Homo sapiens: one gene and its partners. The protein of the gene in region 7 interacts with the protein of the main gene of each other region in a biochemical or structural test. Each region holds a gene or a part of one and is shown on either strand. Other genes may lie near its edges. The genes, in order: MYL2, PIN1, PRKN, KDM8, OGT, DDX39B and PKM.

Evidence for each region.
Region 1: the proteins of PKM (region 7) and MYL2 form a complex in vitro, tested with the Homo sapiens proteins (one study listed by BioGRID).
Region 2: the proteins of PKM (region 7) and PIN1 form a complex in vitro, tested with the Homo sapiens proteins (2 studies listed by BioGRID, with this or other methods).
Region 3: the proteins of PKM (region 7) and PRKN form a complex in vitro, tested with the Homo sapiens proteins (one study listed by BioGRID).
Region 4: the proteins of PKM (region 7) and KDM8 form a complex in vitro, tested with the Homo sapiens proteins (one study listed by BioGRID).
Region 5: the proteins of PKM (region 7) and OGT form a complex in vitro, tested with the Homo sapiens proteins (one large-scale study listed by BioGRID).
Region 6: the proteins of PKM (region 7) and DDX39B form a complex in vitro, tested with the Homo sapiens proteins (one study listed by BioGRID).

The regions. Positions count from the first base shown.
Region 1 is NC_000012.12:110,914,080-110,917,579, forward strand, and holds part of MYL2 (myosin regulatory light chain 2, ventricular/cardiac muscle isoform), read right to left. Parts: intron 1,712-3,500; coding exon 1,636-1,711; intron 246-1,635; coding exon of another isoform or gene 212-245; coding exon 107-211; intron 1-106. UniProt on the Homo sapiens protein: Contractile protein that plays a role in heart development and function.
Region 2 is NC_000019.10:9,841,818-9,845,317, reverse strand, and holds part of PIN1 (peptidyl-prolyl cis-trans isomerase NIMA-interacting 1), read right to left. Parts: intron 1-3,500. UniProt on the Homo sapiens protein: Peptidyl-prolyl cis/trans isomerase (PPIase) that binds to and isomerizes specific phosphorylated Ser/Thr-Pro (pSer/Thr-Pro) motifs.
Region 3 is NC_000006.12:162,717,767-162,721,266, forward strand, and holds part of PRKN (E3 ubiquitin-protein ligase parkin), read right to left. Parts: intron 1-3,500. UniProt on the Homo sapiens protein: Functions within a multiprotein E3 ubiquitin ligase complex, catalyzing the covalent attachment of ubiquitin moieties onto substrate proteins. Substrates include SYT11 and VDAC1.
Region 4 is NC_000016.10:27,213,526-27,217,025, reverse strand, and holds part of KDM8 (bifunctional peptidase and arginyl-hydroxylase JMJD5), read right to left. Parts: intron 3,442-3,500; coding exon 3,275-3,441; intron 2,424-3,274; exon of another isoform or gene 2,254-2,423; intron 2,151-2,253; coding exon 2,018-2,150; intron 1,082-2,017; coding exon 1,037-1,081; intron 1-1,036. UniProt on the Homo sapiens protein: Bifunctional enzyme that acts both as an endopeptidase and 2-oxoglutarate-dependent monooxygenase.
Region 5 is NC_000023.11:71,560,604-71,564,103, reverse strand, and holds part of OGT (UDP-N-acetylglucosamine--peptide N-acetylglucosaminyltransferase 110 kDa subunit), read right to left. Parts: intron 2,330-3,500; coding exon 2,204-2,329; intron 1,258-2,203; coding exon 1,087-1,257; intron 975-1,086; coding exon 858-974; intron 776-857; coding exon 605-775; intron 1-604. UniProt on the Homo sapiens protein: Catalyzes the transfer of a single N-acetylglucosamine from UDP-GlcNAc to a serine or threonine residue in cytoplasmic and nuclear proteins resulting in their modification with a beta-linked N-acetylglucosamine (O-GlcNAc).
Region 6 is NC_000006.12:31,535,504-31,539,003, reverse strand, and holds part of DDX39B (spliceosome RNA helicase DDX39B), read left to right. Parts: intron 1-148; coding exon 149-241; intron 242-2,320; coding exon 2,321-2,504; intron 2,505-2,554; exon of another isoform or gene 2,555-2,630; intron 2,631-3,500. UniProt on the Homo sapiens protein: Involved in nuclear export of spliced and unspliced mRNA. Component of the TREX complex which is thought to couple mRNA transcription, processing and nuclear export, and specifically associates with spliced mRNA and not with unspliced pre-mRNA.
Region 7 is NC_000015.10:72,221,191-72,224,690, forward strand, and holds part of PKM (pyruvate kinase PKM), read right to left. Parts: intron 1,382-3,500; exon of another isoform or gene 1,364-1,381; coding exon of another isoform or gene 1,260-1,363; intron 95-1,259; coding exon of another isoform or gene 1-94. UniProt on the Homo sapiens protein: Catalyzes the final rate-limiting step of glycolysis by mediating the transfer of a phosphoryl group from phosphoenolpyruvate (PEP) to ADP, generating ATP.

The DNA of each region.
Region 1 (3,500 bases), on a different chromosome or scaffold from region 7:
TTTCCAATGGTGCTTTATCTCTTTTAAAGTTAACCATCTTCTGCCAGCCCCCCCGAAGAAACATAGACACATACACACAGACACACACACACACACACGACCTTACCCTTAAGTTTCTCCCCAAACATTGTGAGGAACACAGTAAAGTTAATTGGACCCGGAGCCTCCTTGATCATTTCATCAATTTCTTCATTTTTCACGTTCACTCGCCCTAGGGTAGGAAACACACACTCAGGGACTCCGAGCTGGGGAGAAAGAACCATTATGACACTGCCATTGGCTCCTGGGATTCCACTTCAAGAAATCTAGTCTAGAAATCATCAGAGATGGGGTGGATGGAGGCAAAGATCTTTTCTGAGAAGATGTTCTTGACAGTGTTATTTATAATAACCAAATGACTGGAAGCGACCCTAACATCTGATGTGGGAAGGTGTTCGTTATTTATTTATTTTTCTTTGAGACAGGGTCTGGCTGTGTCACCCAGGCTGGAGTGTAGTGGTACAATCTCGACTCACTGTAACCTCCGCCTCCCAGGTTCAAGCGATTCTCGTGCCTCAGCCTCCCAAGTAGCTGGGATTGCAGGTGCATGCCACCATGCCTGGCTAATTTTTGTAGTTTTTTGGACAGACAGGGTTTTGCCATGTTGCCCAGGCAGGTCTCGAAGTCCTGGGTTCAAGTGGTCCTCCAGCCTACGCCTCCCAAAGTGCTGGGATTACAGGTGTGAGCCACCATGCCGGCCAGTTCATTATATTTAAAATAGTGTCTTCAGAACCTGGAACATTTGATGCAGATATTTTCATTTTTCACTCAAATGGGAAAGGCTCATGTTGTAAATTAGCCCTTCACAGTTGGAGGCGGGAGAGACAGATCAGGATCACCTGAGGGAACTTTTACAAGTTAAACCTGCTGTAACCCACAGCCGTGGAGGTTCTGATTTACCTGCTCTAGTCCTGCCACAAGCCTAACTTTGTGCAAATAAGAAAAATCTGTCATTTTTTAAGCCAATGTATGTTTTAAGTATAAAAAGCTACACTCACTACAAATGTGAATACTTCCCTGTAGAATTGTGCAGTGCGCAGTCTGCACAGCTGTGTATGGTTGCCCTGAGTTCTAAGGTCAGGAGTAAGTGGTGGTGGCGGGTAGCAGATTGGGCATGTATATTTTGAAGAAACTCCATGTACTCATGCTCACACTGTTGAGATGATACATTTTAGAAGATAAATTCGAAAGAGAATGATTCCAATAATTTAAAAAACTAAAACCCAAACCTAACAGACATGTCTAGAAAGACTTAGAGGAGGGACTGGAATGTTCACAGTGGAATATGACCTTCTGGGTGATGTCATTTTCTCCTTTATACTTTTCTGCATTTTTTCCCCATTTTCTGTTGTGAGCTGACATTGCATTCAAAATCACACAAAAAAGTTATTTCAAGAGAAAAAAAAGATATCTGAAGGTACTCAAAGACTAAACACTTCTTTCCCATCCCCTGAAATTTGTCTTAAAGACCAGTTGTGGCAGAGTTGTTTCTTTGGGAAATGACACCATCTTGAGCTTTTCTGATGGTCCCACCTCCTGCTCCTCATGGATGTGAGATAAAGAGACCCTCATGCAGGGCTAGAGAGGGTGACATACCAAGGGCAGCAAAGGTGTCTCTCAGATCGTTCTTGTCAATGAAGCCATCCCTGTTCTGGTCCATGATAGTGAAGGCCTGTGGAAGGGAAGTGATTGGCAGCTCAGCCTGGGAGAAACTGGCAGAGTTGCCCAAGAGATTGGGCCAAGGACTTGGCAGGAGTGGATTCTGGGATCTTCAAAGATCATTGTAGGACCTCAGATTAAAAGTCAACAATTGAAGATAATCCAACAGTTTCTTCAAAACGTCAGGCCTCGTGTTATCATATGACCCAGACATTCCACTGCTAGATATATACCCAAGAGAATTGAAAACATGTCCACATAAAAGCCTGTACACAAGGCTGGGCACAGTGGCTCACGCCTGTAATCCCAGCACTTTGGGAGGCCTAGGCCCGTGGGTTACTTGAGGTCAGGAATTCAAGACCAGCCTGGCCAACATGGTGAAACTCCGTCTCTATTAAAAATACAAAAATTAGCCAGGCGTGGTGGCGCATGCCTGTAATCCTAGCTACTTGGGAGGCCGAGGTAGGAGAATTGCTTGAACCCAGGAGGCAGAGCTTGCAGTGAGCTGAGATCATGCCACTGCATTCCAACCTGGATGACAGAGCAAGACTCCATCTCGGAAAACAAAAACAAAAACAAAAAAACCTGAACACAAATGTGTATAGCAGCATCGTTCACAGTAGCCCAAAACTGAAAATAACCTACATGTCCATCAACTGATGAATGGATAAACCAAATGTGGTCTGTCCATACAATGGAATATTATTCAGCCATAAAAAGGAGGGAAATTCCTACAAAGGTTACAACATGGATGAGCCTTAAAACATCAGTGAAAGAAGCCAGACACAAATACCACATATTGTATGATTCAATTTCTATGAAATGTCCAGAACAGGAAATTCATGGAGACAGAAAATGGATTAGCAGTTGCCAGGGGCTGGTGGGAGAGGGAGGAGCAGGAAGTGACTGCTAATGGGTATGGGGTTTCTTTCGGGGGTGATGGAAATATTCTGAAATTAGATAGTGGTGATGGTTGCACAACTTTGTGAGTATACTGCAAACCACAAAACTGCACACTTCAAGGGTGAATTTTATGGTATGCAAATTATAACTCTATAAAGCTATTTATTTATTTATTTATTTATTTTTGAGAAAGAGTCTTGCTATGTCACCCAGGCCGCAGTGCAGTGGTGCAATCTCGGCTCACTGTAACCTCCGCCTCCCGGGTTCAAGCGATTCTCCTGCCTCAGCCTCCCGAGTAGCTGGGAGTATAGACGCGCATCACCAATGCCCAGCTTATTTTTCTTTAGTAGAGTCAGGGTTTCACCACGTTGGCCAGGCTGGTCTCAACCTCCTGACCTCAAGTGATCTGCCCACCTTAGCCTCCCAAAGTGCTGTGATTGCAGGTGTGAGCCACTGTGCCTGGCCCGTGATTCCTCATTTGTAAAACACTTGGGCATTTATAAAGTTCTGAGAATCTCCCTGACTGTCAGCTGAGATAGATTACTGGTCCCATTTTATAGATAGGGCAGGCTAGGGAGTGGAGAGGCCAGATGAGACACCAGTTTTTAGCTTTTTAAAAAATAATAGCTTTAGGCCAGGTGCAGTGGCTCACGCCTGTAATCCCAGCACTTTGGAGGCCGAGGCGGAGGGATCACTTGAGGCCAGGAGTTTGAGACCAGCCGGGCCAACACAGTGAAACCCTGTCTCTAGTAAAAATACAAAAAAATTAGCCAGGCATGGTGGTGAGTACCTGTAATCCCATTTACTCAGACAAACAAACAAACAAACAAACAAACAAACAGACCAAATGGGGAATCCTGGCTACATGTTTTGAGTTCTTTGCATCCCTTACCCACACC
Region 2 (3,500 bases), on a different chromosome or scaffold from region 7:
GCACTCCAGCGTGGGCAACAAGAGCGAAACTCCATTTCAAACAAACAAACAAACAAACAAACAAACAAACAAAAACGCTTTCTTCCTGAGTTCCTGCTCTGTGAGGCTGACCTTGAGGGGTTTGGTCCTGTGTGTCTTGTTAGCTCAGCCTGTACCTGACCCCGCGACAATGACATCCTCCGACTCCCACCTCGCAGACCTTGGTTTAAGCCTCTTGTCCTGCCTGAAACTCATCAGCTATCCTCTGGTCTCCCCAAGAAGCCTCCCCTAATCCCCCACTGTGTTAGGTGCCTCCCCCTGGGTGCTGCATTTACTACCGTCCCATTGGTGTGTTGCTTGCCCGCCTCACAGTGCAGGAATGGAGGCTGCTGGGTTGGCCTTCTTCATTGCTGCACCCTCAGAACCCAGCACTGTGCACAAAACAGGTGTTCACGAATGTTCAAGAAGTTAATGAATAAATGAGACAGAAATAGGCCATGGGGAAGGAGGGAGACAGGGATCTACCACGGGGCTCGAAGCAGAAATGCTGGAATCTCATGCCCTATCTGCCTGAAACTCAGGCTGCGACCCTAAGGCCAGACTTCCTGGGCCTCCTCCAAGACAATGTGTCAGCCTTGCCCGACGGCGCCAAAACCTGTGAAATTTGATGGGGACTGTCGGGTGCTGGAGCCCCATCCTGATTCGATGTGGCTCCAGCTTAGAACCACACAGACACAGGGTGGCCTCTCCAGGAGCTCCCAGTCTGGAGCAGGGGCCTCCACCTGCTTCAAGGTGTTCAGGACCCCCTGAAATAGTATGCAAAACAGAATGGCACCTATCTGTGCTGGCAGACCCCAGCCAGCCTGCTCACAGTGTATCCCCAAGGTCCAGGAGGACATGTTATGGGTGCTGACTCCAGACTCCATCAGGTCCAGATCCTACCTCTGCTGCTCCTGAACAATGAGAGTCTGGCAGGTGACTTTACCTCTTGGAGCCTCACTCAACTGGCCTGTAAAATGGGGTAACCGCTGCTCCCACGTTGGAGCCTGTTCCAAGGAGTGAATCAGTGACCGCTTAAGCAGTGGCTGTTGCAGAGCAGGCCCCTGACAGATCCAAGCTGCCCATCCGTTATGGACTCAATGTTTGTGTCACCCCAAATTCATGTGTTAAAGCCCTAACCTCCAGTGTGGCTGCATCTGGAGATGGGGACTTTGGGGAAGTAACTAGGGTTAAATGAGGTCATAAGGGTGGGGCCCTGATCCAACAGGATTAGCGCCCCTTTTTTTTTTGAGGCAGAATCTGGCTCTGTCACCCAGGCTGGAGTGCAGTGGTACAATCTCGGCTCACTGTGACCTCTGCCTCCCAGGTTCCAGCGATCCTCCTGCCTCAGCCTCCTGAGTAGCTGGGATCACAGGTGTGCGCCACTACATCTGGCTTTTTTTTTAGTATTTTTAGTAGAGATGGAGTTTTACCATGTTGGCCAGGCTGGTCTTGAATTCCTGACCTCAGGTGATCCACCCACCTCAGTCTCCCAAAGTGCTGGGATTACAGGCATGAGCCACTGCGCCTGGCCAGGATTAGTGTCCTTATAAGAGACACCAGAGAGCTCGTGCTCCTTCACTCCGTGCACATGCGCCTGGGGAATGCCATGTGAGTGCACAGTGAGAGGGCAGCCGTCTACAAGCCAGGAAGTGGGTTCTCGCCAGGAACAGAATCTGAGGGAACCTGGATTGTGGACTTCTGGCCTCCAGAACTGTGGAAAGTGATGACTGTTGTTTAAGCCACACTGTCTGTGATATTTTGTTACAACAGTCCAAGCTAATGCACATCAGTGACCTAGGTGGGAGTGAGGGAACAAATGGGGTAGTCCTTGACCCCAAAAATGTTTCAAGACGTGCTGTCTCCTCTGCCTTGCCAGATCATTACGCTGCTTCCAGCATACTTCCCCCAGGCTGCCCAGGCACCAGAGGGGAAGGGGCCTGGTCGGGGAAAGAGGTGACAGGGTCAGATCTGAGAAGACCAAGATCCAGAAGGAGGGGCTAGAGGCTGGCCCAAGGCCAGCAGGCTGGAAGGGCGCCAGTGACCTTGAGGACCCCAGGACAAAGGGGCTGACCTGGATGCTGGGATGGGTATGTGAGTAGGACAGCTGCTCATAGTCTCAGCCTTGCTGGGACCCTCCAGGCCCTGGGCATGTGAGGGGTGGCTGTCAACAGATCTGGGTGGAGAGCGGGCAGGGAGGGCTTCTCCATGGCCCATCCTCCTTAGACAAGGACACTGGCAATGACTCCCTTGGATCTCTGACAGCCTCTGGCTGTGGCCCAGCAGCTGCAGAGGAGCCAATGCTGGGAAAAGGAGCCTCAGCAGAAAATGTGGAGGTCCCGGCTCTCTCTGCAGGCAGCCTGTCCCTTCGGGGCAAGGGCGGAGCACCAGATCTAAATGGGCACTGATGAGATTTAGCCCGGCTGCCAGCTGGGGAGTGAGCTGCCCAAATCATGGTCTCCTGATCACCCGGCATGAACCCTCGAGGGGAGAACATCCACTTCATGGAAGAGAAAATGAGGCCCAGGTGCCCAATGCCTGCGCCGACACTGCACATGATGATCTGTTACCGAGTGTACCTCGGCCGGGGCCACCTCACTGCATCCTCCTATCGACCTCTGAGGAGATCTGCCCCAGCACCGTCTCAGGCAGGAGGATACCAGGAGAGGGAGGTCGTGTGCCAAGGTCATCATCTGTGTGCTGAGCCCACCAGGCCTCCTGTGGTCCTATCCGGAACTCTTTCTACGGGCTGTGGGGTGGCAGCAGGGGCTGCCCGTGAGCAGAGGCCTTGACTTGACCTCAGCTCCCCCATCGTCCACACCCCAATGACTGGGGCTGAGGCTCCACCGTGCAGAGCACGCCAGCCACTGAGCCCATAGCTCCTGGATCCTCATAGCCACCCTCTCCCCATTCTACAGATGAGGCAACTGAGGCTCAGGAAATGAAGACCACACAGCTGGCACTGAAATCCAGCCCTGTACGAGCCCAGGGTGGGCCACGCTGTTCTGCCCTGACCCTCCCCCAGACATCCCACCCTTGCCCACCTAATCCATCACCCAGTCCTCTCTATCCTGCCTCCTGAATCTCTCTCGGGTCTGCTCCCTCTCACTTCTTCTTCCACTTCCAGCCCCCAAGTTCAAGTCACACCGCCTCTTGCTCCAATTCCTCCCACAGCTTCCACCAGGTGGGCAGGCAAGGCTCCTGCTGACATTCCAGAATCTGCAGGTACCTACGGTGACGCCTCAGGGCCTGGCTACTTACCAGGTGCACCTGTCCAACCCAGAGATGGGCGAGACACCCTCGCCCACCACACCCAGACCCATGCCCTCCTCACTATCCCCACCGACCTCAGCCTTCTGCCAGCTCTCATCAGGATTGCTTGGAGCAGCTCTGTCCTGCGCCTGGCTGCTCTGCTGACCCCCAGGAGCCCACTTCATGCCGCTCCATCCCCAAATGCCTGCACCCTCCTGCTCACTCTTATA
Region 3 (3,500 bases), on a different chromosome or scaffold from region 7:
TTTCCTGAAAACACTACTTTTATGACCAGAACATGAGCATAGTATGCTACCATTGAAAATTTATCTGACATAATTTGACACAAAAGTAGAATCCGTTTTAAATGTATTACCACAATGCATTTGTCCTGAAGATTGTGTTTATAACACATTGCTTTTCAGTATTTCCAAAACATTATACGCTTAACGCTGAAGATCTGAAAAACACAATCATAATAAAAGAAAACATCCCACAACCCAAAGATATAATTTGCCGGTATACTTCCTGATATTTTTACATATACAAATGGCCCCTAATGCTATCTAGTTTCCAGTTATGGTAACTAAATGGTCACATTAACACTTTTTAAAAAAGATCTTTCCCAATTATTAAGAACTCACACATATTTGTCCATCTTAGATCACTTAATCATCCTATCATCACTGTTTTAAGACAAAAAAAATCTTATTACTTCTAGGAACTTCATCTCAAATAGCATCCCCATCCCCTCTCTGACTGACTTTACCTGTATAACTTGCATTCTATTAAGCATAAGATGATTAAATTGGCTGCAAAAGCCAGAAGGGACTTTTAATGAATTTACACACTAAGAATTGTGACAACTATGTCTTGATCCAATATGAAAGTTTCTTAGATGTTGAATCTCCATTAAAAATTATTCCAGAGGCCAGGCGCGGTGGCTCATGCCTGTAATCTCAGCACTTTGGGAGGCCGAGACAGGTGGATCACGAGGTCAGGAGATCGAGACCATCCTGACTAACACGGTGATACCCCGTCTATACTAAAAATACAAAAAAAATTAGCTGGGCATGGTGGCAGGCGCCTGTAGTCCCAGCTACTCGGGAGGCTGAGGCAGGAGAATGGCGTGAACCTGGGAGGCGGAGCTTACAGTGAGCCGCGATCACGCCACTGCACTCCAGCCTGGGCAACACAGCAAGACTCCGTCTCAAAAAAAAAAAAATTTATTCCAGAACTGTCCCCCACAAAACAAAATAGAGTTCTAAAATGGGCAACAATGCCCAGAAATTGCCAGAACATAAAAAACAAGCACAGAGACTTGGTATAAAACTCAAGACACTGAGAATAAGATTATTTGGTGACTTCTTTGAAATCAAGATGATATAAAAGTCAATACCTATGTCAGAAGCTCTGCATGTAGTGAGACACGGCAGATGCCACACACACATACACACACACACACACGAGAAAGGGACAATGAATAATGGAGAAAACTCTAGAGAGGGACAAAAGGAAGAAATTCCAATTCCAATCATAGGTTGAGCATCTCACAGATTCCTAAATGAACAAGAGTGGAAAGCCCACAACAGATCTCTACGAAATATCACTCTCTGTATCATATGATTATGTCTAAATTGACTGCCCAATAAAACACATATACTTCCCATCTGATCCTATGAATTCAGACATATTCATGTAAAAACGTCTTTATATATTGTCACATGTAATTATACAAATTTGGTGAATATCAACTGGATCATGCAGTCTACATTTGTCTGTGGTCAGGAGCCCAGAGAAGCAGCACCTCAGAGAACATGACCTCACTTGTGCTTAAATCTGTACCTCTCACACTCTGGGAACTCACCAGAGAGCTATAAAGGACTTTCAGGAGAAAGGAGGTCGAATTTCAAGGGTGGAGAGAAGACCCAGGGCACAGGGAATATTATTCTTAAATCTGTCTAATTCTCCAAGGAGCAAACCTAACTTGCCCCCATCCTCTAGCTGCCCAGAGTTCATCATTCCTCAATTTTGTTTCAATGGAAAAAAAAAATTGTAATCAGGACTGGATTTGCCTGGAAGGAAAATGCAGAGCCAGAGACTACAAAGATTTCCATTGCAGACAATTCCCAATCTAGGGAATGTCTCCAGTAGGAGCTGTGGTGAAGCCTGGTCTGTTCCGGTCAGGCCACTCCTGTGATAACCCTCAGAAACATTACAACCCACAGTCAAGCCCTGTGGCAACAAGTAAGGAAGAAATTCACCTGTTGTTCAGACAACAGCTGCTCCTTTGAGCTGAAGAATGAAATATTAAATTCCAGCTTCTGAGAAAATCAAGGAATGTGGGTAAGAAAAAAATGAGGGGACAGAAAAGAGGGAGTGCAGGTAGATGTCAAAAAAAAAAAAAAAAAAAAAAAAACTAAAGGTTGACCTCAGAAACACAGATATTACAAATGTTCCTTCCTATTTCTCCATTTTATTAATACGAGCAAGTTTCAGGTGTCTACTTCCTATCATTTCATGATCTGGAAAATGGATCTACTCTGCGGGTACAATAAGCTTTAAAAATGACTACGCAGTTACAGAGGGCTTCATCACAAGATCTTATTTATGCACTGAAACTCCAAAAATATCTCACAATAGGAGTAACTGGCGTATTCAACAATTATGTAAATAAATAATAAAAAGTCTCAATCAGGACACCAATATTAACTCCCTAATCACCAATTTTCCCCCTCATTTGATGAGGGTAGGAGTAGAGATGTGCAAAATGGGTGAGGCTGCTAACTATTGAACATTCTCTCCTCCAAAGTTAAGGGCTCTCATGTGAAACTTTATGGGGGCCTCTGTTCAGGTCTTACAGTAAAAGTAAATTGGAGAGAATCATCAAGAAGCCATCAATACTCTTAAAAATACACACATCTGTCCATAGATGGTCTTTTTTTTTTTTTTTTTTTTTTTGAGACGGAGTCTCGCTCTGTCGCCCAGGCCGGACTGCGGACTGCAGTGGCGCAATCTCGGCTCACTGCAAGCTCCGCTTCCCGGGTTCACGCCATTCTCCTGCCTCAGCCTCCCGAGTAGCTGGGACTACAGGCGCCCGCCACCGCGCCCGGCTAATTTTTTGTATTTTTAGTAGAGACGGGGTTTCACCTTGTTAGCCAGGATGGTCTCGATCTCCTGACCTCATGATCCACCCGCCTCGGCCTCCCAAGGTGCTGGGATTACAGGCGTGAGCCACCGCGCCCGGCCCATAGATGGTCTTAATATGTGCCTAGGTATATGAGTCATGCAGATATCTAAGAGGAAGAAACTATTCTGCACTATTCTGGGTGACACGATATCCACAGCTCTGATGACATTGTTCTCTCCACACAGAGAAGAAACTATAAATAGAACCCTAAGCATCATGTTCCACATATCAAAGAAGGAGATACAAACTATTTTTGGAATACAAATAAAGCTTTAGTAACATGAAATAAAACACCTGTCAATAAGAGACATTAATCTATTCTACAAAAATAAGAACTTTTTAAAAAGAAATATGGCCTTTAATCAGAGATGATGTAATGACATATCAAATCAATGTCAACACCCTGAGAAAAGCCATCTCCTACTGCACAATTACCCTGCCATTCTCAGTCGAAGACTGTCCTCTATTAAACATTATCTGGACTTCTTTCCTTTGTTTTATGGAGTGAGTTTATAAACGCTTGTTCTCCGTAACTAGTGATTTCAAGTATTCTGTTTTATCTAAGAAGTACAATGA
Region 4 (3,500 bases), on a different chromosome or scaffold from region 7:
CTGGCTCATCTTGAAAGTCACTGTGAACTTGGCCTTCTACTCCTAAATATAACTCCTCCTGTCCTACAAAGTATGAAACAGCTGCTCCAGGACAGGGAGCCAAGGTTAACCATGGCTTCCAGGGTCCCCAGCCCACACTGAGGCCATGCCCCCAGGATGACCAGGGTCAGGAGAAAGGTGGGTCTCGGGATCACACAGTAGGGACCTGATCAATTAGAATCCCCCTTTCCTTCACTTAGCAAGTGACATGGACAGGACGCAGGATGCACAGGTCCTAATAGGGAGGCCTGGGGAAGAGAAACCGCCAGCGTCCTTTAATGTCGGCATGAAGGCTCCTGGCACAGCCCCTACTGGCCCTGGGTCCCCCATCGAGACAGAGAAGCAGTCCTGGCTTCAGCAGTAGATACAGCAGCTGATCAGCATCCCAGGGCCCCACTGCAAAGGCTACAGAGGTGCGGCCCCAGCCCACCCCTGGCTGTAGCCCTGACCCTGACTGACTCGAGTCTTCCACGTTCGGGACACGCACCTGGCCCTATCCTTGAATCCTGCCAAGGGCTGCCTTCCTGGGCACTCCTGGCAGACACCACACCAGCCAGGTCCCTCCTGGGCGCCCCAGCTCCATCTATTTAGTGTTTTGGGGTCCTGAATCTGGGCATCTTCCCCGATCTTCCCTCCCTCCCCCACACATCCACCCACGTCCAGGGCTCGGTGGTTCACACCGGTCTTGAACTGCTCCACCTGCCAGCATCACCTCTCCTTGCACCACAGCAATAGCCCAGCCAGCCACCCGCTCCGACAGCTGCTCCCTTCATCTCTGAATAGCAGCCCCTACAATCCTCGGGGCACTGGCGACCCCCCAGTGTTTCCTGTCACTTTAGGAAAATGGCTCCTCATCACCCACGTCCTGTCACCTTCCTAGCCTCACCTGCTGCCTCCCTCCTACTCACGCTCACTGCTCCAGCCGCACTGAGCCCAGGAGGGGAGGAGAGGGGAAGGTGAGACGGTGAGGGGCAGAGGTGCGTGGCCTCAGACTTACCTGGTCAAAGAGCTGGTGCTGAGCAAGGTACCCGACGTCCCTTGGCTAATCCACCGGGGAAAACCAGAGGCAACACAGAAAGCCCAGTTAGTCATGACAGATGCCCTCCTGCTGCTGCTGTCCAGCTGGCCCCAGCTGCAGCACCCGTCACCCTTCCACTCCATCCTGAGTGGTCCTCTCCAACCCTTAGAGGCCCTGGGGCAGCTTCAAAGAACCTCTCCAGCACCGGGGTACCCAGTTTGTAAAGCACTGATCTCATCCATCTGATTGGCAAACATTTTCATAAAATGGCAACAAACAGTGCAGGCAAAGATGTAAGAAAATGGACACTTGTGTTAATTGCTGGTGAAAGTATAAGTGATCTAACTTTTGGGAAAAATAAATTGTCCTATCCTGTCCTGTCGTAATTTTGACAGGGCCTGGTTCTATTGTCCAAGCTGGAATGCAGTGGCCTGATCTTGGCTCACTGCAACCTCTGCCTCCTGGGCTCAAGCAATTTGCCCCACCTCAGCCTCTTGAGTAGCTGGGATTACAGGCACGTACCACTATACCCAGCTAATTTTTATATTTTTTATAGAGACAGGGTTTCACTATGTTTCCCAGGCTGGTCTTGAACTCCTGGTTTCAAGTGATCCGCCTGCCTCAGCCTCCCAAAGTGCTGGGATTACAGGTGTGAGCCACCATGCCTGGCTGCTATTAAAAATTTAAATACACATACTCTAGACTTAGCTGTCCAACTTTTGGAACAGGCTAAAACCCACTGAATTATACTCCCCTGCCCATTAAAAAGGACCTGACATGAATCCCTCATGTCTGCTGGCTAAGCAGCCTGCCTTCCTCGCTGCGGTCGTCCCTCCGACCACAGACTTACAGCCTGGCTCCTCCAAAACCTCCCATTACAACACATGGGGGGTTATTTGCCTAAATGTACTATGCTCTCTGCCTTGCAAGTACTAGGGGAAAGCAGTCCCCATGATGTACCTCATTCACGATGTATTTGCTGATGAACTCGTTGACCGTCATGAGGGTCTGGGACCATTCCTCATCTGTGTACCTCGAACCAACTTCCACTGGGACAGTTCGGCAGCCAGCGATCTCCTGGATATACTCCAAACTAGCAGAAAGACACACATTGGCATCGTCACTGCTAATATCTGTTGGGCATAGTACTAAGTGTGCTTTGCATGTGGTCCCCTTTCATCCTCGGAAAACCTCACGTGCAGAGACAAGGACTGTCATCCCCAGCTTCACTGATGAGGAACCGGCATGGAGAGGTGGGGCTCCCTGCTCAAGGCTGTGTGGCTCATACACAGTGCTGTGCAGCTTTGCAGACAGGGCCGGTAAGTCTGGTTGGCTGGGCTGCTCTAGTTCCCTGCTTGCCAACAGCCTCCTCACTTCTTTCTTTGCTCATTTTGTCACTAAGCTGAGAAACCTTTGAACAAATAGCGGACAGCGTGGCAGGTGGCAGTCTCCTGGACTCTGCCCTCTAGCCTGGGACTGATTCCAGGCCTCATCAGTTACAGGCCAGGGGATCTGAGGCAGGTTACTGAACCCGAGTCCTTGATCCCCATTTACAGAATGGGGGTGATGACAACACCTGTCCTAGTGCCAGGTACGTAGTAAAATGCTTAATGAAGCCTTGCTGTGAGGAGAGCTCCTGCAATGAGAATTCCTCCACATGTGTCAGCGGGTACCATTCCCTCCGCGAAACCACAAAACAGGCGGACTCCATCTACCTTCCTGGAGAGATGCCTCCTTATTTCCAAACTCATGCAGAGCCGCGGCATGACAGCCACGCTCCAGCTGCCTGATCTGATCTCCCCATCATGATTCTGAGAAAGGACTAGAAACAAACACAAGAGACCACAGAATCCCTCAGAGAGAGAGGGGCTGTCTCTTGGGTTATTTCTGCTCTTAGCTTCAGGGCCCTGAGATGGTCTGAAATTGCTAGGATCCTGTAAAATTGCATAACAGAAACATTCTAGGACTGCCACTTAGGGACTCATTAAAAAACCGCTTAAGGCGAGCAAGGTAGAAGGTAAGAATCCCATAACCTGCGGCATAAATTCAGAGCACCTTACTTTTCACTCTTTTTTAACCCCTTGGCAATCAGTCAAGGGCTGCTAGTGAAGCATCTACAAGGTTGCATTTCCCTGGGGATGGTCGGGAGGAATTCAGGGAGCCCTGGGGAACGCTAAAATGGGAAAAGGGACCTCACCTCCCTCAGCGACCACCCACCTCCACTTCTGCATGCACGGCCAGTGGTCAGCCACGCCTTTCAGGATCACGGGCCTCCCTGGAACCAAAAACTGCTCCCTGAAATGCTGGAGGGACGGACGGTGCAGCCGGGGGACTGTTTTTTCTAACTTCACATCTGGAATCAAACCATGGTCCGCCCTTGCTTTCTGTTTAAAATCAAAACAGAACAAAATAGCAACCACCTCAGGAAGTCGACATTTGAGGT
Region 5 (3,500 bases), on a different chromosome or scaffold from region 7:
TGCCTTACACTCTCTTGATAGAGCTACTTATTTAAGCATGCAATATATTATTTATTGAGTACATACTACATTACTGTGATTAAGACATGGGCTCAGTAATTCAATTCAGTAGAGGATACAAACACAGGGAATTATCATCTGTTGTGCTGTATGTAATGATATATTCCAAACATTACAGAGGTATAAAAGACAGGTACCAATGAAGTAGGGATGGAGACGTTAGCGGTAAGTACGGAAATGGATTCCTGGAAGAGCTGTCTGAACTGAACGTTTGAGTAGGATTTAGCTAGGGAAAGGATGGGTTTACAGAAGCAAGAAACTGTATGGAATCTACACATAGTTCATCATGTAAGAGAGTAAAGCCACAGGCAGGGAATAACAAGATATTAACACAGCAGTTTCTCAGTAAGTAATAATCTGCTGGCTGAATCCAGGAGACTTTTAAAATCAGACACACCTATATAAGATGCACGTTTCCACTAAACTCATTTCCTCATCCATAAAAATGGTGATAATGATACTTGCCTCCTAGAGTTATCATGAGGTTAAGGGAAATAAATGCATACTTGGCGGGACATATAATGGTGTATTATTATCTTCTCACCTGAGTAGTTGCCAGTCCATTGCTAATACTGAATCCATTAATTGTTATTTGAATCTGTCCTCGGTTAATCATTTCAATAACTGCTTCTGCAATAGTATTCATAGGAATAACAGGCATATTAAGAGCTGTGTTACTGCTATCTGCATTGTCTCCTCCATCAGGACACTTCATCTGAAAAAAAAATGCATCATTAGGGAAAAGATCGTGAATGCAGTTAACTTTATTTCAATGACAATACTGACTAGGTTCTGACCTTGACAATTTTCACATCTGGTAGACTATCAAGAAATGCTTTGAGGTCGATGCCATTCAGAACTATCCGATTGTCATAAATGTGCCCATTGGACTTAAAATCGATGACTGCTTTTTTCTAATGGAAAAAATAGTTTCAGACATGTCTTTTAGGATTTACATAGACAATAGCAAGGAAATAAAAAGCTACAGTTCTTTGAAATTCGTCCATAGCACTGTTTCATACCTACCTTCAGGTGAGGGAACATATTAGCATGATCACCAATAAAAAAAGTGTGGGGCATATAAGCCAATTTCTCGGAATACTGCTCAGCAACTTCAGCTGGCGAAGTTTCCTGATCAGTGATAATATAATCCATGAAAAGCGCACCACTCGTCCCAGGGTATCCCAGCCACATTGCCTTAAAAAAATCAGATCAAAAACTGATTAAGAACTTTTATCAGTACACTTACCTCTAAATTCATCAAGTCACATACATTAAATATGTACAACTTTTTGTATGTCAACTGTACCTCAATAAAGTGGTTTTTAAAAAAAGAACCTAAAGGTGCCAAAATTAAATAAGTAAATAAACAAGGAGGTCTAACTCTTTTTTAGAGACAGGATCTCACTCTGTTCCCTAGGCTGGAATACAGTGGTGCAATCGTAGATCACTACAGCCTCAAACTCCTGGGCTCAAGCAATCCTTCTGCCTCAGCCTCCAGAGTAGCCAGGATTACAGGCACTTGCCACACGCACAGCAAGGCTGACTTCTTTAGCCGAAAGCAATGAAGCAGTTCTATAAGAGAGACTCTTACTCTGTCACCTGGGCTGGAGTGCAGTGGCATAGTGATAGTTCACTGCAGCCTCAAACTCCTAAGCTTAAGCAATCCTTCCACCTTAGCCTCCCAAATAGCTGGGATCACAGAGGCACACCACCACTCTGGCTAATTTTTTAATTTTTTGTAGAGATAGGGTGTTTTGCTTTGTTGCCCAGGCAGGACTCAAACTCCTGGTTTCAAGAGATCCTCCTGCCTAAGCATCCCAAAGTGCTGGGATTACAGGCGTGAGCCACCATACCCGGCCTGTATTTCAGACTAACTTTCAAAATGCTAAAATGTTCTTCAAATTTGCAAGACAGAGTAACTGTTCATAGCCAACCATGAATTGCATGTCTCTATATACATGTACCTATAAGCACTGTGCTCTACACTCTTTTTGTCCTGTGCATTTCAACAACTTAAAAAAATTAAAAGTATGTCTGCCCTACAGTTTCAAATATCAGTTAACCAGAGGGAGGAAAAGCAGCACCTCACTGTATTCTTAGCCAAATACATGTTATAAGTGATGACTGTTAATTTGTTTACCTGAATAGGAGCTGGCCTGAGAGCAAAAAGCTCATTTCGAGCGCCCTTAGTATAGCCATTCATATTTACAAGGATATGAATTCCATCCTGATGGATGCGATCAGCTGCTTTTCCATTGCATGGAATCTACAGAATACAAAATAAGAACTCACTATGTATAATCTCAGATCAATTAGTTTTAATGACATTTAGTTTTAATGGCATTTAGTTTTAATGGCATTTAACATAATTCAGATTCCCAGATGGAAAAGAGGTAAGAACACAAATTAACTACATTAATTCGGGCACAAATATGGTTGACTGTCATTAAAATGGGCCCAAAGCATTAAAGAAACAGAACACAAAGGAAGGAGAGTTCACTTCTGGATTGAATGTATGAATAACAACATATCACAGAGAAATTGGTATTTGAAATTTGTAATCTTTTTTTTTTTTTTGGTAGGGATGGGGTCTCACTATGTTGCCCATGATGGTCTCAAGCAATCCTTCCACCTCAGCCTCCCAAAGGATTATACACGTGAGCCACAGCACCCAGCCTAGAATTGGTATTTGAAAATAGGTCTTCAAAGACGAATAGGAGTTTGAAGGAGTTTAACAGAATACAATCTCAGTAGAGAACAGTATGAATGAAGAACTAGAGTAAAGTGTGAGGGAGTTTAGAAAATGGTGAGTAGGCCGGGCATGGTGGCTCACATCTGTAATCCCAGCCCTTTGGGAGGCCGAGGCAGGTGGATCACCTGAGGTCAGGAGTTCGAGACCAGCCTGGCCAATGTGGTGAGACCCCGTCTCTACTAAAAATACAAAAATTAGCCGGGTGTGGTGGCAGGCGCCTGTAATCCCAGCTACTCGGGAGGCTGAGGCAAGAGAATCGCTTGAACCTGGGAGGCAAAGATTGCAGTGAGCCGAGATCGTGCCACTGCATTCCACCCTGGGCGACAAGAGCAAAACTCCATCTCAAAAAAAAAAAGGGTGAGTAATTCACTTCTATTTAGTATAGGGTATACAAGATGTTGAATGGTGAGTTAAAGTATTGACAAAGTTGTGGCAAACAGAGAAAGGTTACAAAAGCTATGCTGAAGAGTTTAGACTGCAATCAATCAGCAGTGAGTCCCTAAAGGTCTCAGAGGTAGAAAGAGGTATGCTTCTTGGTCACAAAGAGTCCAACTGTGTATCAAAAATGGCCAGGTATACTTTTGAAGCAACAGCTATACTGCAAAATTTGTTAGTACATACTATTTATTAAATGAGAAGTCTCAAAACCTTTCTGCTAGGACTTCAGTGATTCATATATATATAC
Region 6 (3,500 bases), on a different chromosome or scaffold from region 7:
TCTGTCGCAAGCGTGGGGTTCATGATTTAGATCACATAATTGAAGTCATTTATTATCGGCCCAGGTGTGTTTTTGTGACAGTCACTTCCCTAGAGGGGATAATGAAGAGCTACATTTACCATATGTCTCCGTCTACTTCCTGCCTAAGGTGTCTGTACTGGTGATGTGTCACACTCGGGAGTTGGCTTTTCAGATCAGCAAGGAATATGAGCGCTTCTCTAAATACATGCCCAATGTCAAGGTAAGCCAAGGTAAAGAGACCTGAGAGTGAGGGTGTGGCAAGTTGGAGGGATAAGAAACTTGTAGGCCAATAGTCTCTTTAATTTTGGAGAAGCTTTAGTTTGCTGTGGTGTAACAGAGTGTTGAGTTCCTATGTAACAGGAGGATTCGTAATTGGGCTATGGATGATGCTTAACACAAGACCACCCTTTTCTTACTACTTTATACTGACTTTGAATCATATCAGTTTAATAATTTTGGGGTATGTGGCAGAGAAAGCCGGAAACTTTAAAACAGCTCCAGTGGTGTGTGAATATTGAGGATTCTGGCCAAGTGCACAATGGCTTACACCTGTAATCTCAGCAGTTTGGGAGGCCAAGGCGTGTGGATTATTTGAGGTCAGGAGTTTAAGACCAATGTGGCCAACAGGATGAAACCCTCTCTCTACTAAAAATGCAAAAATTAGCCGTGCATGGTGGCACACACCTATAGTCCCACCTGCTTGGGAGGCTGAGGCAGGGGAATCGCTTGAACCCAGGAAGCAGAGGTTGTAGTGAGCTGGGATTGTGCCATTACACTCCAGCCTGGGTGGCAGAGTGAGACTCCCATCTCAAAAAAAAAGAAAAAATCTGATTGAAGTTAAGCATTTTTGGCAAGAATCCTTCATAGGTGATACTGTATCTCCTGTTATGCCACAAATCTGGTCGACTTATGTTAGTTATTTTATTTTATTTTTATTTATTTGTTTTGAGATGGAGTCTCGCTGTGTCCCTCAGGCTGTGAGTGTAGTGGCGCGATCTCAGCTCACTGCAACCTGCGCCTCCCACGTTCAAGCGATTCTCCCGCCTCAACCCCCCGAGTAGCTGGGACTACAGTGTGCCATCATGCCTGGCTAATTTTTGTTTTTTTTTAGTAGTGACAGGGTTTCGCCATGTTGGCCAGGCTGGTCTCGAACTCCTGACCTCAAGTGATCCACCCACCTCGGCCTCCCAAAGTGCTGGGATTACAGGAGTGAGCCACTGCACCTGGCCTCATTAATGATTTTAGATTTACCATAGGATTAGCGTCGTGACAGTCTGATTCCACAGTTGTTCTTTTCCCCCTTGAAACCAGAAAGTAGTTTCTGGTGTTATTTGATACTGTACCAAGGCCCAGATCCCCAAACAACTATTCACCTAATGGTTTTAACATGAAATGATAATATTTAGCCCGAAGCAGTAATTTCATGGGGTTTGTGTGAAAAGAGTTTGAGATTCTGGGTTTATTTAGGAAACCTTAATGTTCCATGTGTTTTTTGTGGTACTTTACACTAATCTGGTGATTTCTTGCTGTCCTTTATTTATTTATTTTTTATTTTTTGAGATGGAGTCTCGCTCTGTCATCCAGGCTGGAGTACAGTGGCTCAATCTCGCCTCACTGCAATCTCCACCTCCCGGGTTCAAGCGATTCTCCTGCCTCAGCCTCCCGGCTAAATTTTGTATTTTTTGTTTTTTAGTAGTAAATTTGTAAATTTTGTATTTTAGTAGAGATGGGGTTTCACCGTGTTGGCCAGGCTGGTCTTGAACTCCTGGCTTCAAGTGATCCACTTTCCTTGACCTCCCAAACTGCTGGGATTACAGGCGTGAGCCACTGGGCCTGGCTTTATTTTATTTTTATTTATTTTATTTCTTTTTGAGATGGAGTATCACTCTTGTTGCCCAGGCTGGAGTACAACGGTGGGATCTTGGCTCACCACAACCTCTGCCTCCCAGGTTCTCGTGCCTCAGCCTCCTGAGTAGCTGGAATTATAGGCGTGTGCCACCACACCTGGCTCCTTTATTTTTTAAATGAAGCCTGGCCTCATAAATGAAGGAAGTTGGTTAGATTAAGTCAGTAGAACTGAATTATTGTCCTGACTGCTCCGACTAGCCATGTAACTTTAGGCAATCACCCTCAGTGTTTGGTGGGGGGGACATAAAATTTTTAAATTAGGTGCCCTCTAAAGTTAGTTTTAGTTTGGAAACATGCTAAAAATTGGTTTAGCTCAAACAGAGTGGGAACCCTGGGGGGATTGGACTCTTTCCTTCCTCTGTTTTGAGACTCTTTGCTTCTGGCTCGGCAGGTTGCTGTTTTTTTTGGTGGTCTGTCTATCAAGAAGGATGAAGAGGTGCTGAAGAAGAACTGCCCGCATATCGTCGTGGGGACTCCAGGCCGTATCCTAGCCCTGGCTCGAAATAAGAGCCTCAACCTCAAACACATTAAACACTTTATTTTGGATGAATGTGATAAGATGCTTGAACAGCTCGGTGAGTGGCAGTGCTGGGGCTTGGCTAATGCTGGGGAGTTGTTCTTTGGAGCCAAATGATGTTTATTTGAAACAGGAGCACCTCAGTGCAAGGACGACTCTTATCTATCACCCATGACTGATGGCTCTGGGTTCCCTGGTTGGTCTTTATTATGCTTTTAAGCACAGTAAAGGGTGTCATCTATCATCTTTCTATGATTTTTGTTTTTAACCTTTGAGAATAGGGGACTTTGATAATTTTAGGCATAAGTCATCACCACCACCACCGTTTTCATTATAGATTCATATACTGGGAGTCATAGCGGAGATTCTAAACTGAAAGAGAAGACAGTACCCTTCTGGCATCTCCAGCACAGCATTTACAGTCAGAATTTATAGCTGAATAAGTGTCTAGACTCAGGTCTGGGATTAATGTAGAGAGTGTTTGTAGCAGTTTGTGTGATGTGGTATTCTAGTGTGCCAGGTGGGGTTAATGGAAGATTTTTCTGTAAGAATTGAATCTTGGTGAATGAGAGTGGGGTTGGACATAGGCCCCATAAGTCATTACAAATGATCTTTGGCAATTCTATATGGTGAGCTATAAAGGTGGGCTCCAGGTAGGGATGTCATATTTGCCTGACTTGATAGAAAAGTAATCCAGAGAGTCATAGATGGACTCTGATATCTGGAATATAATATGTGCTTGATATTTGTAGTCTGCTGAAGGCTGGCTGGGGCTTGGGCAGGAAAGGGTTGGGAGAAGGTCCCATAAAGCATGTTTTGAAGGCCTTGAGAGCCTCTGCACTGGGCTTTATCCCCATTTCATAGTTGGGAACTTTGGGGTTTTACCTTATTTCTTGCTTGGTTAAAACAAACAGCTGGAATCTGATCCCACTTCTTGATTCCAAGTCCATTGCTCTTTCCATTGTGTTGTTACTATTTCCAGCAATCTTCACCTCACTGGGAAGTCTACCTCTAATCTTTGTTTATCATACCTGCTTATTTTCTCCTACAATTT
Region 7 (3,500 bases):
TCCGGTGACATAATGCTCCCCTTTTGGCTCAGGGTGGCTCCTTGGCCTCACTAGCAAAGACCGCTCAGAGCTGAATACGGTGTGCCCTGGAGAGCTGCACAAGGATTAAGGAAAAAGCTGAGTGTAACTAAAGCTCTTTGGGGTAATGGAAAAATTACCTTAATAACCAGGTATCCAGGTGACAGCTGCTCTAGAGATTCCACTGTTATGTCTCTTTAAACCTGTGATTTACTAACATTCCACTATTCTATACAAGAACCTGGTCCCTCCCCTTTTGGGAGCGGGGAAGGGACACCAAATTAAACATACCTAAAAGACCTGGGAGGATATATACTGAAATTTTAATAGGACGTCATTGGGGTGGTAGGATTACAGAAAAAAAAAAATCCTCTTTATTAACAAATTTACTGATATAAATATAAAAATACTTTTATAGTAAGAAATTATGTGTACCTCTTTTGGAAATATTTATATGCATCCTATAAAATTGTTGGGAGGAAGTAAATGAAATGTGAAGACACCAATTCCATTAATCAATTGCTGCTCTATGCACTTCAAGAATAATCTGCTTTTAAAAGGTGGCAGAGAAAAGACGCATGTCTCAAGTTCTGTACACTGGGTTGTGATTAAAAAAAAAAAACGATACAAGTCTTAGGCCCTACATCACAAATGTACTGCAGAACAGTTTCAACGGCTTAAGAAGGTCAACCTTAATACATTCAGAACCTCAAAGCAAAAAAAAAAAAAAAAAAGTCCACAGGATAATCCCATGCCTCAAACCTGTTAGTTACATGCCCAAATCCAGCAAACTAGTTTGTTCTCAAGCTTTACAGTAAAAGCTTTTGACAATGTTCTGGTACAGAAGGGCTGCCTCCAAGTCCACGAGATGCCATTAGCAGATAAAATTATATTGGCCTCAAACACAAACCCTATTTCAACTATCTCAAATTAAATCTGATGCCTATAAGCTCTAATTTTTTGCCAATAAGTACAAAAATGACAAATGAAAATTTCTATAGTGGATTTACGCATTAGCAGTCAAAAAAAGCTTGCTTGTCAGCAAGTTCATCCAGACTCCAGATCTCATGTGTCCTTCATGCTCTCTACCCAGCCAGAGACCTCATATCTCATGCCCAGGTCTTTCCTCAGGCTCTGACCTGAAGCCTCCCTTGCAGGGAGGGCCAGAGCTCTCCTGCCTTCTCCAAAATCCTCCACAAGCCTCTTCCCAGCACAAACTGCCCATCCCACCAACCACGTACCTAGAGTTGTATGTAAAACACTCACTGGACTCCCCTGGCTCCAGGAGAGCAGCCCAGCCTTGGTTTCTCAGGGCGGACTTCTGGGAAAGACTCCTCTCCCTCATGCCAGCTGCCTGGACAGTGCCTGCCAGGACATGTGGCCCCACCCATGCCAGTCTGACTCACTATTGCATCCTCCTCCTAGGAAGGCACAGACATGCAGAGCCAACCTCCAGCCAGCAGTGGAAGCCTGGCGTATCCACTGATAGCAGCACACACCATGCCCAGGTCCAGGAGCCTTATTCTTGAGCCCGAGCCCCTGCAGTAAGATCTTCCTCAGAGCCATGTCTCCTCTGTGAGAAAGGAGACACCATCTCTAAGAGGCCTTAGTCTGGAGTGACAGGTTGGAACAGGCACAATCACAGCTCAGCTCCAAGTGCCCTATTCTCCCTTTCCTTTCTCATCTCAGACAGCTCCTGGCTTTTTATATTAGTTTCCTTTGTGTCAGACACAATTTTTTGGCCATTCTTCAGAAACCAGGAGACAAAAATCATAAAAAATACCCAACACTCCTCCCTCCAACTTTTTTTTTTTCTTTTTTTTTTTTTTCAGACAGGGTTTCACTCTGTCACCCAGGCTGGAGTGCAGTGGTGTGATTATATTATATTATAGCTCACTGCACCCTCAAACGATCCTCCAGCCTCAGCATCCCAAGTAGCTGGGACTACAGGCACGAACCACACCCAACTCCCATGCTCCACTTCTTAGGGCCAGGACTGTTGTTGGGTTGTGCTGGGAAAGATTCACGCTTCACTCCACCAATTCTTCCACAAAGGACCAAATCATTCTGCCCTAATAAAATAGCCTGGCCCGTGAGTCTGCATCTGCCTAAGTCATTTTTCCTTTGTACCAATTATGCTCCGATACCAACCTCATCACATAGATCAACTATAAAATGATGGCACCTGATGCTCACTTTCTCCCTCCAACGTTGCCAGTAGGTACCCAAGATTGTGTTCCTTCCTGTGACGTCAGTTTGCTACCTACACCTCCAAGCCATCATGAAGGCGTTTCGATCCACAACTCTTCCGAACACCTGCATCCGTTAGAAAGTCTGCATCATGATACGCTGGCATTCAGGTCAGCCTGCTCTCTAGTTCTCTTCCTCAACAATGGAAATGGAGTTTCTAAGATTTGCCCTAATCAAACTAGGCCAGCAACATGATCAAAATGGGTGACGGGCCAGCAGAACCTAGTAAGGTCTGGAATAGGCACTGTTCATCTTCATCTATAGTTAAGGGTAATGACAATAATGTATTTGCATATGGGTGCAGGATACAGAGGATAAGATATCTTCTAGCTAAGAGACCTGGGTCTTAAGCCCACACTTTAACCCCAGGAGGCCCCACAGCAGAAAGCAGTATGGTGTTACCAGGCTACACAGAACAAAATGAGCCCACTTGTAGGTTCTAGTAAAATTCCCTGGCTTTAAAAAAAAAAAAAAAATCTTGGCTCTTTTATTTCTTCGGGGCTGAAAGTAAATGACTTGTCAACAGGAACCTAAGGTCCTATTTCCAACTAGAGTGTGGAATAGGGAAGAGCAGCTGATGCTAAATGGGCCTACTTCCCTCAAAGACCACTCAACTTCAGGTGAAGAAGCCCTAAGTCAGAGACCCCTCAATGTCCTCAGATGCCGAGGATTTCCTGGTTCCATCCCAGCTGCTCAGTGCAGAGAACTGGTTTCAGCCTGAAGGAGGTGGTTTGGGGGAAGCATTAGTTGTCCTGGGACATGGTGCCTCCTTACTAGGATTAAAAGTAGGGCGGTGTTTCTGGGTATGATATCCACACTCTAAAATCAGCAAGGGACCTGGGACCCTGATTTAGGGTCCTCTTAAGTGCAACTAAGGTGGGTGATGGCCTCAGCAAAGTGAGGCACTGGCTCAACATTTACTGGAAGGGCTGCCCTGCATTCTAGTCGGGGGGATAAAGGAGGAAAGGCAGTGCCAACTCTCCAAGAGCACTGAACTAGTTACTATGACTGGTCTTCCTACGGCAGCCTTTATAGGTTTGCTTCTATGTTACGAATTAAAGAAAAAAAAGTTTTAACATCTGCCTCTCTACCACCCAGAACTGACCATTAACACTGAGCCATGGCTGGCTGTGTTGGCTCACGCCTGTAATCCCAACAGTTTGAAAGGCTGAGGCGGGCAGATCACTTGAGGCTAAGAGTTCGAGACCAGCCTGGCTAATATGGTGAAACAC